Homo sapiens: one gene and its partner. Each later gene encodes a partner of the first gene's protein in a complex. Each region holds a gene or a part of one and is shown on either strand. Other genes may lie near its edges.

Region 1 (3,949 bases):
TACAGAGTTGAAAATATTTGTTATCTGGCCCTTTATAGAAAAACTTTGCCAACTTTGGCTTTAGAGCATGAACCTTTCAAAAAATGATGTTTATAATTCTTCTTAAATTGCACATGTTGTATTTTACAACAAAATATACCTCTTATTTAAAACAAAACAAAACCAAGAGAAAAAAAAAACTCTGTAGCTAAAACTCCCAGGAATCTTCAAAAAGAATCCTGAAAAAAACTGATACAATCTCCCAAGGGGTTATGTTCCAGTCTTCTCTCTTATGGTTTAAGATTTTATTATGACTTTTATCCAGGCCTATCTATCAAAGCTAAATTATGATCACCAAAAACATAATCAAAAACAGACTGGGTAGGGTTAAAACATTTGGAGGCCACCCACTAAAAAGATTATGAGTGACACCTGCTGTTAGCCGTAAATGAATAACTGTATGGAGCTGGTCCACCTGCCATGAATGACTGAAAAACTAAACAAAATATATGAAACAATAGCTGTGGGACAGTAGGACAAAGGCGGGACAGGACTGTAATTACTGCAATAAGGGAAAACTGGGAAAAGTCTTGCAATGGCCTCCTCCCTGCGCAAGGGAGGAGGAATCCAAGGGAGTTTTTGAGACAGAGTCTCACTCTCTTCCCCAGGCTGGAGTACAGTGGCACAATCTCGGCTCACTGCAACCCCCTTCTCCCATGTTCAGGCAATTCTCCTGCCTCAGCCTCCCCAGTAGCTGGGACTACTGGCATCCTCCACCATGCCTAATTTTTGTTTTTTAGTAGAGACAGGGTTTCGTCAGGTTGGCCTGGAACTCCTGACCTCAGGAGATCCTCCTGCTTCGGCCTCCCAAAGTGTTGGGATTACAGGTAGGAGCCACCATGCTCGGCCTAGCACAGCAGTCTTGAAGGATTGAGGAGACAGAGACTTCAGTTCAGGGAGGCTGAGGCAGCCAGCAGGGTTTGCAAGAGAGTGAGGGAGCTATGCAGATAAAGAGCTCTAGGAATCTGCACTGGGGTCCCCTTGAGTCTGATGCTGAGTCCTAAGATGCTGAGCAACAAATACTGACAGCTATAAAGTGAACAACTCCCAGGTTCAGTCACGTAGGACCTAGGACCGGGAGACACTCAAATTCCATCCAGCCAGAGTAGAGCTATCGCACTGAACCCTCGGGGCAATCAAGAGAGACTCCAGAAGGGCCATGCTTTGTAACAAGGCTAAATTAGCCCTAACATAAAGGCTATATTAGACTTGACCTAACAAAGCTTAACGATAAGCCTAGAAAGGATCAGCCTAATCCACAATCACTTAGCTGCACACCAAACAAACTCCAACACTATTTAAAAGAGGACAACAAGCTGGGCATGGAGGCTCATGCCTGTAATTCCAAGATTTTGGAAGGCCAAGGCAGGCGGATTACCTGAGGTTGGGAGTTTGAGACCAGCCTGACCAACATGAAGAAACTCCGTCTCTACTAAAATTACAAAATTAGCTGGGCGTGGTGGCGCATGCCTGTAACCCCAGCTACTCCGAAGGCTGAGGCAGGAGAATCGCTTGAACCCGGGAGGCGGAGGTTGCAGTGAGCCGAGATCGCACCATTGCACTCCAGCCTGGGCAACAAGAGCAAAATTCCGGCTGAAAAAAAAAAAAAAAAGACAACAAAATCCAAACACTCAACAACATAATACACATAGAGATGACAGAATTAACATACAAGGATATTAAAATAGCTATTATAAACATGCTCCATATACTCAAGAATGTAGAGGAAAATATGGACACAATGAAGAAAGAAATGGAAGACTAAAAAAAAAGATTCTACTTAATTCTTTGTTATGTCTTCAACAATTAAAAATACAGTAACTGAAATTTTTAAATTCACTAAATGGAATTATCAGATTAGACACTGCAGTAGACAAGATGAATGAACTTAGCAATAGAAATTATTCAAATTGAAGCTAAAGAGTAAAAAGACTGGAAAAAATCTATCAAGTTCCACTGATTTATGGGACAATATCAACCCATCTAACATACATGAAATGTGAGTCACACAGAAGGAGAGGAGAGCAGAGGAATTAAAAAAATATATTTGAAGAAATAGTAGCAGAAATTTTTCCAAATTTGATTCAAAAAACTATAAGCTGACAGATCCATAAATCTCAAACAATATCAGTCAGGACAAAAAAAATCACACCACGGCACATCACAAATTGCTCAAAACCTATGCCAATAAAAACAAAACAAAAGGATCATGCTGCTCCTCTGGCTCCATGTGTAAAATAAAATAAAAACGATTCTACTCCAAAGAAAGCAAATAACATCTTTTTTCTTTTTTTTTTTGAGACAGAGTCTTGCTCTGTTGTCCAGACTGGAGTGCAGTGGCTCGGTCTCGACTCACTGCAACCTCCACCTCCCGGGTTCAAGTGATTCTCCTGTCTCAGCCTCCCGAGTAGCTGGAATTACAGGCACCTGCCACCACACCCAGCTAATTTTTTGTATTTTTAGTAGAGACGGGGTTTCACCATGTTGGTTTTGTATTTTTAGTAGAGACGGGGTTTCACCATATTGGCCAGGCTGGTCTCAAACTCCTGACCTCGTGATCTGCCGGCCTCGGCCTCCCAAAGTGCTAGGATTACAGGGGTGAGCCACTGCACCCGGCCTGCAAATCACATCTTTCTAGATCTTCTTGATTGAACAAATGTAGGTAAAATTCATTAAAGTTGAACTTTTCTCATTTTTGTTGAGGCCTTCCTTTGCTGGTATCCCTAGCATAAGCTTAGTCTATCTACTGGTTAATCAAGTATGACCAAAGTATAAACTACTGAAAAATAACAATATCATAATAAATTTATATACCTTACAGTTCACAAATGTCAAATACTTTAGATTGTATGCTCCTTGGGGTCAGGATCTTCAAATCTTTGCCCATACATTTCTAGCGCAGTTTCTCATGGAACTTAACTGTCTGAACACACATGAATGAGTCAATCTTATTTCACCCTCAGTACCCTGCTGCGGTGTGTAGAATAAAATGAGACAACAGATGCCTAGAGGGGTTAAATCATTCCCCCAAGGATACTCAAAAGGCACCCCCAGATAAATACCACCACACAGTGTTACCTCAAAGTAGACACAAAAGAGGTTTTAATTTTACTTACTCTGACTTTCCACAAGATCCAAAGCAACACTAGAAGCTGTGTCCATACCAGAGTTGATACAGGCTTGGAAGTTTTTCAAGGAGGAGAGAGCAGACTCTACACCACTGAAGGAGATGAAACCAGTTGAACCTGAATTTGAACTGGAACGTCCTGGCATCTTGAAATTAGTACCTAAGTTTTCAAACACAATGAAACAAGATTCGTAAGTCAGAATAATAACTGCACAGGAAAATATTAATAAAACTGCTGTAAACATTCATACAAATGTATCCAATATCTCATAAATGCCACACTATTCTGTATATCCTATAGAGAAGACACCAAATCACTGTGCCACTCACCTGGGCCACCAAACACAGCTGGACTCAATATATGGGGAAGGTAAGTGTCCTCAGTTTTTGGAGAGAGATTACCCTCTTCCAAAAGAGTGCTTGATTCTGTGAAGAAGTCAACAATAGCACAGTTCTTAAAAGCCTACAAGATAAATGGGTTAGAAAAAGTAGACCACTCATATGATGCAATTTTCCAAAGAGAAAAAAATACTAATAAAATAGTTTATTAGTAAACTATTTTGAAAACCTGTAATCGTTAAACTATCCAACATATATGCATACTGAATTCTGGAAACTGTAAAAAAAAGAGAAAATCTATATTCCTGCCAGTTCCTCTGGCTTCTAACAGATTAATAGACTTGGTGAGATCCCAGAGTCAGTGAAAGCAGAATTTCTGTATAAACTTGTCTTCTGGCAGCACATCCACTATAACAGTTTCAGTTATTACCTTCATATTTAACA
Region 2 (3,527 bases), on another chromosome or scaffold:
CAGGATATTAATAGATGAAGTTATTCAATTGTTGCCCAGCTTATCAAATATAATAGTTTTTCCATAAATCTAATGGTCCTCTCGTGCCTAACTTCTAACAATTCCATGCATTTGACCTTGCTATTCTCTTGCCTAGAATGCCTTTTCCTTCTTCGTGTTTCTACTCACCTTTCACCCTTAGCTGATACCTCAACTACTACAGCAGAGACACTACTTTTGCTGAGTACAATAACAGAAATTGTTTAGAATATGGATACTCACTCATAAATCCTAAGTCTTCCTTGCAATGACTTTTTTAGTCTTAATGTTGCATATTCACTGCCTTACAGACAGGTTTTTTTTTTTAACTTTTGTTTTTTACCCACTCTTTGCCCAACCTGGTTAGGAACCCTTTCTGGGATTCTCTTGGTTCCCTATGACAGAGAAAGCAACGCATCACAGAGCATCATCACTGATTTTCGTAAATTATTATGTTTTGCAAATTATCAAATATCCCTTAATTTGGTATCCAAAACTTGTTTTTATTAATAGTCTTAAAGGGCATTCAATAAAACGTTCCCATAAATATGCCAGTGAATTTGTTTTAATAACAGAAGATCATGACCTTATAAATTACTAAGAAAAATATGCTGCACAGTAAAACAATGTCTGATGTTCTTGAAAATACTTTTTCACTTTACAAGAGATACAATATGTGCTTCAGTTTACATTTTACTCTCCATCTAACTTCAGAAAAAAAACACAAAAAGGATGCTATACTAAGAAATCTTTAGTATGAGGAGTATGTAATCATAGCCTCAGAAATTTCAAAAGCTGCCACAATGTTTTTCCACTCCTGTAAAGTCAAAGATATAACTCCCTGTTTCCTGCCATGGCAACTGGAATCATTTCCCTCACCCATTTGGTTAACATTCATCGGCTCTAATATTGGCAGCCTGTCTTCATCAAGCCTTATTCTTGCAAAACCATCTCTTACAATAAAAGAAACATAAAATATATTCTCCACAGTACGAGAAAAAGAGTTTGGATCAATCACAAACTCAAAATAGGACACAGGAGTATCAGGATACTTTCGAAAGTAGGTTTGCAACAATCCCAAAATCCTTTCTACGTTTTTTTCTGTCGCTTCTGGATAACTACTCAGGTCCAACTTCTGCAACTTTGTAGGCATGTTGCCATTTTCTTCCATCTTGCGAACTTTTTTCTGGTGTTCAAGTCGGGGCTTTGGTGCAGAACGTTCTAGCTTGAATGAACCAAAAACAAAATGGAATGTCTCAGCTTTTACCATCCAGGATGTTGCTTCCTTTTCTATTGCCTTCCAGAAGGAAAGAGCTATGCTATCATCACAATCACTCAACTTGTCAGGATCGCCTTCCATCCAATTCAGACCCACGAACAGAAACAGAAAGTCACAAAATGCTAACTGATTAAAGAAGTTCATATCTGAGTTTAACTGCTTTGCCTTTTCTTTACCCAAATCAGAAGCCATAACAAGAAACCGGGCGTCGAGGGCTGCTTCTCTGGTTCGGCTCACGCCATCAAAGAGGACGTTGGCTTCCTCCAGAGCCTCGGTTAAGGAGTTGTTCGCCGAGCTCACGATGTCCTCCCGGTTCTGCCGCACGCAGTACATGAGCTGCCGGTACTGCCTGCGGATGCTGCGGCACTTCTCCTCGTCAGCGGTGAGCTCCAGGAGCTTTGGGTCTACGTCGGCCTCCCCAGAGCTGAGGTCGTCGGAGCAGCCCGCGGCCCTCACTGACACATCCATCTTCATCAGCGCTCCCTCCGCCGCCGCCTACTTCGCCGCGTACTCGCTACCGGGGATGATCACGAGCTGCTCCTCTCCTTTCTCTTCGTCTCCCTTCCGGGAAGCTTTTTCAACCAACATGCCGGCCACGGGTATCTCTGAGGTAACGGCCCTCCCAGCGTGTGGAAAGTGGCGGCAGTTAGAGCCGAGGACGCCCGCCCATGCGCACTAGCGGCCCGGCCCGGCGCGACCCGCCCCCAGCACGCTCCGCGGGAAGACAGCCCCGCCCCGGCCCGGCCCAGCCACAAGCCGAGGCGCTCGCTCATAGACCAGCGCGGCGCTCCCAACACGCGCAATGATGGGCCCTGACCTCACACGCGACTAATGCCCGCTCAGGGGACAGCTATTCTTTTTCAAAGCGTTTACCGACTGGATCACCTCACTTTAAAAAAAAACACTTTTGGACAACTTTACACAAAACTATTGAGGAGACTAAAGGTCCTGCGCTTTAAAACGCTCGCTGCCATCATATACTGCAGTGAGGTCGACCTGGTTTTGGTTTTTTGTGAACTAAATCTGGCTGGACTGTAAACCGTCGGTAAGGCCAAGGACCGTGAAAAGCAGAAACTCCATTAAGCAGGCTAAACTCTCAGTTCTTTTGCAAGGTGGTGTTTGGACTCATTATACAAATGTAAATCGGGTTAATTACTTTCACATGTCCTCTTAAAAACCAAGCCCCCTCCAATACCCATCCTGAGTATCTGTGGGATCGGGGGAGCCTCCAATATCCGTGCTAACCCCTGCAGGAAACTGGGTGCTGGGCACGGGCATTACTCAGGTGAACTTTGGTTCTCCACTACCCAGGAGTGGAAGAATAGAATGGGTAGAGATCTCTGCAAAAGAGCTATTTACTTGGAAGCTTGCCAACAGCTAAAGGCCACCGACACTGAATGGGTAGTAACTCTGAACCCTAAAAGGTGGGCAAAGCTATGAAAATTTCAGATACAGTCTAAGGATATGAAAGCTTAATCTGTAAACTGGGTGAGTAATCTGCGTGGGAAAATTTACCCATTGGATTTAATGGGGTCACTGGAAACTCAAGTGCAGTTAAAGACGTGACTCCTTATCTGTCTCACCAGCAGCAAATAGCAAAGTATACATAACAATGGGAATGGCCGGGCGCGGTGGCTCACGCCTGCAATCCCAGCACTTTGGGAGGCCGAGGCGGGCGGATCACGAGGTCAGGAGATCGAGACCATCTTGGCTAACCCGGTGAAACCCCGTCTCTACTAAAACTACAAAAAATTAGCCGGGCGCGGTGGCAGGCGCCTATAGTCCCAGCTACTCGGTAGGCTGAGGCAGAAGAATGGCGTGAACCCAGGAGGCGGAGTTTGCAGTGAGCCGAGATCGGGCCACTGCACTCCAGCCTGGGCTATAGAGCGAGACTCCGTCTCAAAAAAAAAAAAAAAAAAAAAGGGAATGAATACATCTGGTTTTTAAAGAGAACATGCACACAAACAACCCATGAGCATCAACAGCTTTTCAAACCTGCAACAGGTACACCTTAAAAAAAAAAAGACACCCACAATTGCACCTGTCCAATTGCCAGTTTCATAGCACCAGGAAGTAAATTAGCCCTACCTTCCTTTATGCATATAGACTTGTTCTATTTCTTTAGCATTAGCAGAAAGTTTTTTGTAAATGTATAAACAGCAAAATCTAGTAGTATTAAGTTACTCCAAAATCCTTATATTACCATTTGCTCCCAATTATTTTATTAACT

Evidence for each region. Proteins that work in one complex are often made in the same cells at the same time.
Region 2: NSMCE2 (region 1) and EID3 share a complex: the UniProt entries of both Homo sapiens proteins name them as parts of the SMC5-SMC6 complex.

What each region holds. Positions count from the first base shown.
Region 1 is NC_000008.11:125,101,694-125,105,642, reverse strand, and holds part of NSMCE2 (E3 SUMO-protein ligase NSE2), read right to left. Parts: intron 3,630-3,949; exon of another isoform or gene 3,593-3,629; 5' UTR 3,497-3,592; intron 3,327-3,496; 5' UTR 3,313-3,326; coding exon 3,156-3,312; intron 1-3,155. UniProt on the Homo sapiens protein: E3 SUMO-protein ligase component of the SMC5-SMC6 complex, a complex involved in DNA double-strand break repair by homologous recombination. Is not be required for the stability of the complex.
Region 2 is NC_000012.12:104,302,179-104,305,705, reverse strand, and holds EID3 (EP300-interacting inhibitor of differentiation 3), read right to left. Parts: upstream 1,968-3,527; 5' UTR 1,772-1,967; coding exon 770-1,771; 3' UTR 501-769; downstream 1-500. UniProt on the Homo sapiens protein: Tissue-specific component of the SMC5-SMC6 complex, a complex involved in repair of DNA double-strand breaks by homologous recombination.